Homo sapiens: one gene and its partner. The protein of the gene in region 1 interacts with the protein of each later gene in a biochemical or structural test. Each region holds a gene or a part of one and is shown in the gene's direction. Other genes may lie near its edges. The genes, in order: IKZF4 and FOXP3.

What was found.
Region 2: the proteins of IKZF4 (region 1) and FOXP3 form a complex in vitro, tested with the Homo sapiens proteins (one study listed by BioGRID).

The regions. Positions count from the first base shown.
Region 1 is NC_000012.12:56,030,730-56,034,542, forward strand, and holds part of IKZF4 (zinc finger protein Eos), read left to right. Parts: intron 1-1,831; coding exon 1,832-1,981; intron 1,982-2,460; coding exon 2,461-2,592; intron 2,593-3,813. UniProt on the Homo sapiens protein: DNA-binding protein that binds to the 5'GGGAATRCC-3' Ikaros-binding sequence. Transcriptional repressor. Interacts with SPI1 and MITF to repress transcription of the CTSK and ACP5 promoters via recruitment of corepressors SIN3A and CTBP2.
Region 2 is NC_000023.11:49,258,163-49,261,975, reverse strand, and holds part of FOXP3 (forkhead box protein P3), read left to right. Parts: intron 1-3,448; 5' UTR 3,449-3,470; coding exon 3,471-3,680; intron 3,681-3,813. UniProt on the Homo sapiens protein: Transcriptional regulator which is crucial for the development and inhibitory function of regulatory T-cells (Treg).

The DNA.
Region 1 (3,813 bases):
AAAAAAAAAAAAAAAGTAGAGAGTAGAACAGTGGTTACCAGAGGCTGACTGAGAAGGGTTGGGAGTAGGTGGATAGCGAGAGGCTGGTTAATGGGTACAAGATTACAGTTAGATGGGAGGCATAAGTTGTAGTGTTCCACAGCATAGTAGAATGACTGTAGTTAACAATAATTTATTGTATATTTCAAAATCGCTAGAAGAGATTATTTTGAATGTTCCCAATACAAAGAAATGATAAATGTTTGCTGGGCATGGTGGCTCACGCCTGTCATCCTAGCCTTTGGGAGGCTGAGGCAGACAGATCATGAGGTCAGGAGATTGAGACCATCCTGGCTAACATGGTGAAACCCGTCTCTACTAAAAATACAAAAAATTAGCTGGGCATGGTGGTGGGCGCCTGTAGTCCCAGCTACTGGGAGGCTGAGGCAGGAGAATCGCTTGAACCCAGGAGGTAGAGGTTGCAGTGAGCCGAGATCGTGCCACTGCACTCCAGCCTAGGCAACAGAGTAAGACTCTGTCTCCAAAAAAAAGAAGAAAAAAAGATAAATGTTTGAGGTGACAGATATGCCAGTTACCCCAACTTGATCATTACATGTCGTATACATGTATGAAAATATCATATGTATCTCATAAACATGTATAATTATTATGTATCAATTATCAATTAAAATTTGAAAAAAAAGAAAGCGGTTGGAGGATCATTCCTCTCCCAGATGTTAAACTGTTTCCCCAAGGGTCTTTGGGTGGATAGGGACCATGGTGTTCATTTCATCCCTAAAATACAAGAGTTTACAGAGCCTGAGTAAAATCCAGTAGATTGATTTAGTCAAGGCCCAGCTTTGGCATGGCAAGGTTAGGGGTGAATAGTAATTACCAGCTTCCTAGAGATACCTTCTCCTGTCTCCCTGCTCAATAGCAGCAAGATACATCAAATATACAATACGTTGTTTCTCTCCACTTTTTTCTCTCCTCTCACAAATATCTCTTAAGAGTTATCTTTAAATGAAGTACCACTCTGTTTTCCAATTTTCTTTCTTCGGTAGAAACAAGACCTTTATAACCTGTTCCTTATTACAAGCACATAAACAAACAAACCCAAATTTGGTGTTCTCTTTTTTTTACTCTTCTTTATTTTCTTCTCTGTTCTTTTATTCTTTTTCTCTTTTCAGAATTACTCTATCAGTGATGGGCTTTCTAGACCTCTCTTGGTATCTCAGCGTAGAGAGACAGAGAGACAAAATAATCAGTAAACCAGGCTAGGGCTGGAGGTCAAAATACAAGTAAAGGTCAATGAAAACTGCCCCCTCCCCACATTGGCAGATCTAAGGGCTCTCATTTCTGTCATGCCAGCCCACCAGTTTCCCCCAAACCAAAGCAGATAGTTCATAAAAAGCAAAAAATCCCCTTGTCTGATAAACAGCACTTACATCCGCCTGCCAAATGGAAAGGTTAAACCACAGTCTGGGCCCCAGACTCTGAGATCCTGCAGTGGGGCCTGCCTGTCTGCTAGGGATGATCCTCTACAAAGTCCCTGGGTCCTCACTTCCTTTAAGCAACAATTTGGCCATCTTGAACAAACCCACCACCAGTCTGAAGCCACATGCCCTAGGATTCCCTTGCCCCCATAACTGCACATTATCCTTCATCATCAAATATTGTTCATCTGTCCGCGGTTGCAGTTGAAGTTGGGAAATGAAAGACAAGTAGAAGAACTCAATTTAGCAACATCCTTTCCTTCCCATGCCAGTGTATACTTGCTCTTGGCTGAATCTGCAGAGCCAGGGCACAGCGAGAAATAGCTCTGATGCCATCTTTCCACTCTCCTCCACAGTCTCCTCTCCCACAGTGGGCAAGCCCTACAAGTGTAACTACTGTGGCCGGAGCTACAAACAGCAGAGTACCCTGGAGGAGCACAAGGAGCGGTGCCATAACTACCTACAGAGTCTCAGCACTGAAGCCCAAGCTTTGGCTGGCCAACCAGGTAGGGCTATTGATGTACTACTGGGGAGTTAAAAGGGGATGGTGAGAGGGAGTGCTAGACAAGGGTGACTCCAGTATCTCCCACACTGAGGGATGAAGTCTGTGGAACAGGGGATGATTACCCCAGTAAATCTGCCAAACACCCCATTCTAGGTAACCCAGTTGGTGGAGAGCCTTGTCTGTGGTGGGTGCTTTAGGGAGATCGACAGGTAGGGGAAGTTTGGGTCTATATCCTTGGCCTAATGGGAGAGAGAGAACACAAGAAGTATAAAACCAAGGGCCAGATGTGTATGATTGTCCCCAAATGATCTGAAATTTTATTGGAGTGAGCTTTAGGTAGGGTAAACAGAGCCCAGTTTCCCAGGCAACTGGTATGTCCTTCCTTGGCTACTGACCTGCTGGTTTTCTCCAGGCAAAGGCTGTGGGGCCAATGCTACCCCTACTCAACTGCTACTACTGTCTCCACCTTCTTCCCACTAGGTGACGAAATACGTGACCTGGAGATGGTGCCAGACTCCATGCTGCACTCATCCTCTGAGCGGCCAACTTTCATCGATCGTCTGGCCAATAGCCTCACCAAACGCAAGCGTTCCACACCCCAGAAGTTTGTAGGTAAGAATCCAGTTGGAAAGACGTATCAGCTTTAAGCCACAGCTCAAATAAATCTGAGCTGTGTGGTCTGGAGATTCGGTTTGGGGAAAGAAAGCAGTCTGGTGGGCTGGGTGCAGTGGCTCACGTCTGTAATCCCAGCACTTTGGGAGGCCAAGGTGGGCAGATCAAGAGGTCAGAAGATCAAGACCATCCCGGTTAACACAGTGAAACCCCCTCTCTACTAAAAATACAAAAAATTAGCCGGGCGTGGTGGCGGGCACCTGTAGTCCCAGCTACTCGGGAGGCTGAAGCAGGAGAATGGTGTGAACCTGGGAGGCGGAGCTTGCAGTGAGCGGAGATCGCGCCACTGCACTCCATCCATCCTGGGCAACAGAGCAAGACTCCGTCTCAAAAGAAAAAAGAAAAAAGGAAAGAAAGAAAGCAGGCTGGTGGCCTCTGATACTGAAAATCTATCCTCAGGACAGGAGGAAAGTAAAGAGGGAGGATGTACTCAAAGAGAGTGGAGAAGGGTTGGCACTGAAGACTCTCGTGGTGGTTGTAAGGGACAGGGTCGAGGCATCGGGCTGTCTCAGTTTTTTGTTTGTTTGTTTGTTTTTGAGACGGAGTCTTGCTCTGTCGCCCAGGCTAGAATGCAGTGGCACGATCTCGGCTCACTGCAACCTCTGTCTCCCAGGTTCACGCCATTCTCCTGCCTCAGCCTCCCGAGTAGCTGGGACTACAGACGCCTGCCACCATGCCCGGCTAATTTTTTTTGTATTTTTAGTAGAGACGGGGTTTCACCGTGTTAGCCAGGATGGTCTTAATCTCCTGACCTCATGATCTGCCCGCCTCAGCCTCCCAAAGTGCTGGGATTACAGGCGTGAGCCACCGCGCCCGGCCCGGGCTATCTCAGTTTTTAAGAATAACAAGAACTTCAGTCTGTGTGGGCCCTTAGAGAGTCAGAGAGAGGAAATAAGTATGTGGTTCCCCCTATCCCCAGCACTAGTCATGAGCTCTCTAAGGACCTGGAGCTTTATGGAGAGTAATAAAATGAAGTATTAAAAATCAATGGGCTGGGATTGAGTCCTTCTCTAAGATTATAGCCTAGAGTCAGGGAGCAGTCCCACAAAGGACCTGACCCTGCGAAAGTAAATGCCACGTAGTAAATAATGTTACACCCAGCCCCACAGGTAAAAAAACAAAGAAGTAATCCTGAGGAGAGTGTAGGAATTCTCCAAACCC
Region 2 (3,813 bases), on another chromosome or scaffold:
AATGACTTAACCAGACAGCGTAGAAGGGCCCTGGCCCTTGTCTACTCCACGCCTCTCCGTGCTCAGTGTAGAAGGGCAAATTGAAGACCAGAGATCTCAGGGCCTCACCGAAATGCAGCGGCAGAGTTGAAATCCAAGCCTAGATCTCAGGACTCTAGGTGGGACCCTGGTTCTGGCTCTCTCCCCAACTGCAGGCCTCAGTTTACCCCTCAGCACCCAGAAGGGGGAAGGGGAACCTGGGCTACCATTCCCCCTTCTGCCTTCTCACACGTTGGACCCCAACTTCCCACAGGTTGGACGATCCACGATCACAGTGTGGGGCCCAGCCTCACAAGAGCTGGGCTAGGTGAGGCCCCGGACTCCATAGGTCAGGAGGCCTAGTTGGCCAGAGCGTGGTGATGATGGAGGCATGTCAGTCAGTCAGGCTGTGTGTCCCCAGAGCTGGTGCTGGTCCCCGAAAACCTTGATTGTGGGGCCCCTCTAGAGAGTCTGATGATGGGCTCTGTATTGGCGAAGGCTGAGGCTTTTCCAGCTCCCCCCATGAGGCCCAGACCAAAGGCACACCAGCCTCAACCTCCTCCTCCCCCTGTTGCCATCTCTGGCGGAGTGGCCATGTATTTGGGAACGTTGTTCCAGAGTGGACAGGGAGACTGAGGCCCTAGGGAGGCTGGCTCTGTTTCCAGGCCTGGTAGGCAAGAGGCCCTATGAAGCAGCAAGCTGCCTGACTTTCAGATGGTTCCAAGGAGTTTGGACACCAGGGACACTGGCCTACACATACTGAGACTTTGGGACCGTAGACCCCACAGTCTGTGGTTTTGAGATTCTAGGATCCTTTAAATCTAAGAAATGCTGTTCTATGATTCTGAGGTCCTGGTGTTATACTATTTGAAGACCCCAGGGGTCCCAGTATCTGTGGAGCCTGCCTGGCACTCTCAGAGCTTCAAACCTGGGTCCTCTCCACAACCCAAGAAGGGCCAGGTCTTCAGAGCTAGGGGCTTGTCATAGTGGCCAGATGGACATCACCTACCACATCCACCAGCACCCATGTCACCCCACCTGGGCCAAGCCTGCTGCAGGACAGGGCAGCCAGTTCTCGGAACGAAACCTGTGGGGTGGGGTATCTGCCCTCTTCTCTTCCTCCGTGGTGTCGATGAAGCCCGGCGCATCCGGCCGCCATGACGTCAATGGCGGAAAAATCTGGGCAAGTCGGGGGCTGTGACAACAGGGCCCAGATGCAGACCCCGATATGAAAACATAATCTGTGTCCCAGAAACATCCCCCATTCAGCTTCTGAGAAACCCAGTCAGAAAGGGACGTCCCAACAGACAGTGCAGGAAGCCGGCTGCCCAGCCCGGCCCTCTAGGTCCTCTACCCCCAGACAGATCATCTCCATGTCCCTGTCTGAGAATGTATCTATGCTTTGCTGAGTCAGGCCATCCCACATGTGTTTGGGGAGAATTCTTAGCTCTGGCCAAGTGTCCAGGCAGCTTCAGAAGTGACCACAGGCCAGCCACATGGGCCAGGCCAGAGTGGTGGAAAACATCCATTTGCACCGAAATCGGTATTAGTTTGTTCTGGCTGCTATAACAAAGTACCACAACTGAGTGGCTTCAGCAACAGAAATTGATCATCTCACAGTTCTGGAGGCCAGAGTCCAAGATCAAGGTGTTGCCAGGGTTGGTTCCTTCTGGGGGCCATAAGGGAGAAGCTGCTCCAGGCCTCTCCCCCAGCTTCTGGTGGTTGCTGGCAATCTTTGTTATTTCTTGGCTTGAAGGAGCATCACCCCATCTCTGGCTTCATTCATTCACTCACCTTCTCATCTCACCAGTGCTCTCCCAGGCCCTTGTTCGGAGCCTCCACAGACCCACACTCCTGTTTCTCACGCAGTAATGTTCTAAGCCCCCAGGAGACTAAGAACTTAATACCTGGATTCTCACACTCATCTCCCTCAGCACCACAGCTCTGACAACCACCCCCAGGAGGTGACAGCAAAGAAAGGAAGGAGCAACTGCTCCCCCAGAACCCTTCTATACTCCCCCGGGCTGCTCTCAGCAGCTGTGTGCCCAACTCAGTGCTGTGAGGTGGAACGGGGAGATGGAGACACACACACACACACACCAGAGAGTTTATAAAATGTGCACACGGAAACACTTCCTAAAGAAAGAAGTGGAGTTCTCAAGTCACTATGGGACTACGGAACTCGGCATCTGAGCATCCCCTTCTGTATAATGGGGTTGGCTGGGCAGTCCCTTCCAGCTCTGGCTTCCTCTCAGACCAGGATTATAGGATCCTGAAAAGCCAGTGCTTCCCTCAGGGAGTGGAAGGTTCTGGGGCTCAGCAGGGGGCCCGGAGCCATTGTGGAGGGCTTTCAAGGTGAGGACAATAGAAGAGCAGGTCTTGCGTGGCTTGGACAGGGAAAGAGGAGAAGGAGTGGGCATTTGAGGCAGGGGGTGTAGCATGAGCCAGGCTTGAGGGCCAGAAATTGGGGTGAACTCTGATGGGGGCTGGGTAGAGAAGCTTCTACAGGCCCCAGCTCAAGAGACCCCATCTCTCCTCCTCTCTGTCACTTGCCATGCTGGATCCGTGCATGATCACACTCCTGGACTCGCCTCCTTGCCCTGAGATCCAGACCCCCGTATTCAGCTGCCCCCTCAGCTCCTCCACTCACATATTTAATGCCAGACTCTTCATGTCTATCTACACCTGCACTTTTGCACCCAATCCAACTCCCCGCCATGTCCCCCATCTCAGGTAATGTCAGCTCGGTCCTTCCAGCTGCTCAAGCTAAAACCCATGTCACTTTGACTCTCCCTCTTGCCCACTACATCCAAGCTGCTAGCACTGCTCCTGATCCAGCTTCAGATTAAGTCTCAGAATCTACCCACTTCTCGCCTTCTCCACTGCCACCAGCCCATTCTGTGCCAGCATCATCACTTGCCAGGACTGTTACAATAGCCTCCTCACTAGCCCCACTCACAGCAGCCAGATGAATCTTTTGAGTCCATGCCTAGTCACTGGGGCAAAATAGGACTCCGAGGAGAAAGTCCGAGACCAGCTCCGGCAAGATGAGCAAACACAGCCTGTGCAGGGTGCAGGGAGGGCTAGAGGCCTGAGGCTTGAAACAGCTCTCAAGTGGAGGGGGAAACAACCATTGCCCTCATAGAGGACACATCCACACCAGGGCTGTGCTAGCGTGGGCAGGCAAGCCAGGTGCTGGACCTCTGCACGTGGGGCATGTGTGGGTATGTACATGTACCTGTGTTCTTGGTGTGTGTGTGTGTGTGTGTGTGTGTGTGTGTCTAGAGCTGGGGTGCAACTATGGGGCCCCTCGGGACATGTCCCAGCCAATGCCTGCTTTGACCAGAGGAGTGTCCACGTGGCTCAGGTGGTCGAGTATCTCATACCGCCCTAGCACACGTGTGACTCCTTTCCCCTATTGTCTACGCAGCCTGCCCTTGGACAAGGACCCGATGCCCAACCCCAGGCCTGGCAAGCCCTCGGCCCCTTCCTTGGCCCTTGGCCCATCCCCAGGAGCCTCGCCCAGCTGGAGGGCTGCACCCAAAGCCTCAGACCTGCTGGGGGCCCGGGGCCCAGGGGGAACCTTCCAGGGCCGAGATCTTCGAGGCGGGGCCCATGCCTCCTCTTCTTCCTTGAACCCCATGCCACCATCGCAGCTGCAGGTGAGGCCCTGGGCCCAGGATGGGGCAGGCAGGGTGGGGTACCTGGACCTACAGGTGCCGACCTTTACTGTGGCACTGGGCGGGAGGGGGGCTGGCTGGGGCACAGGAAGTGGTTTCTGGGTCCCAGGCAAGT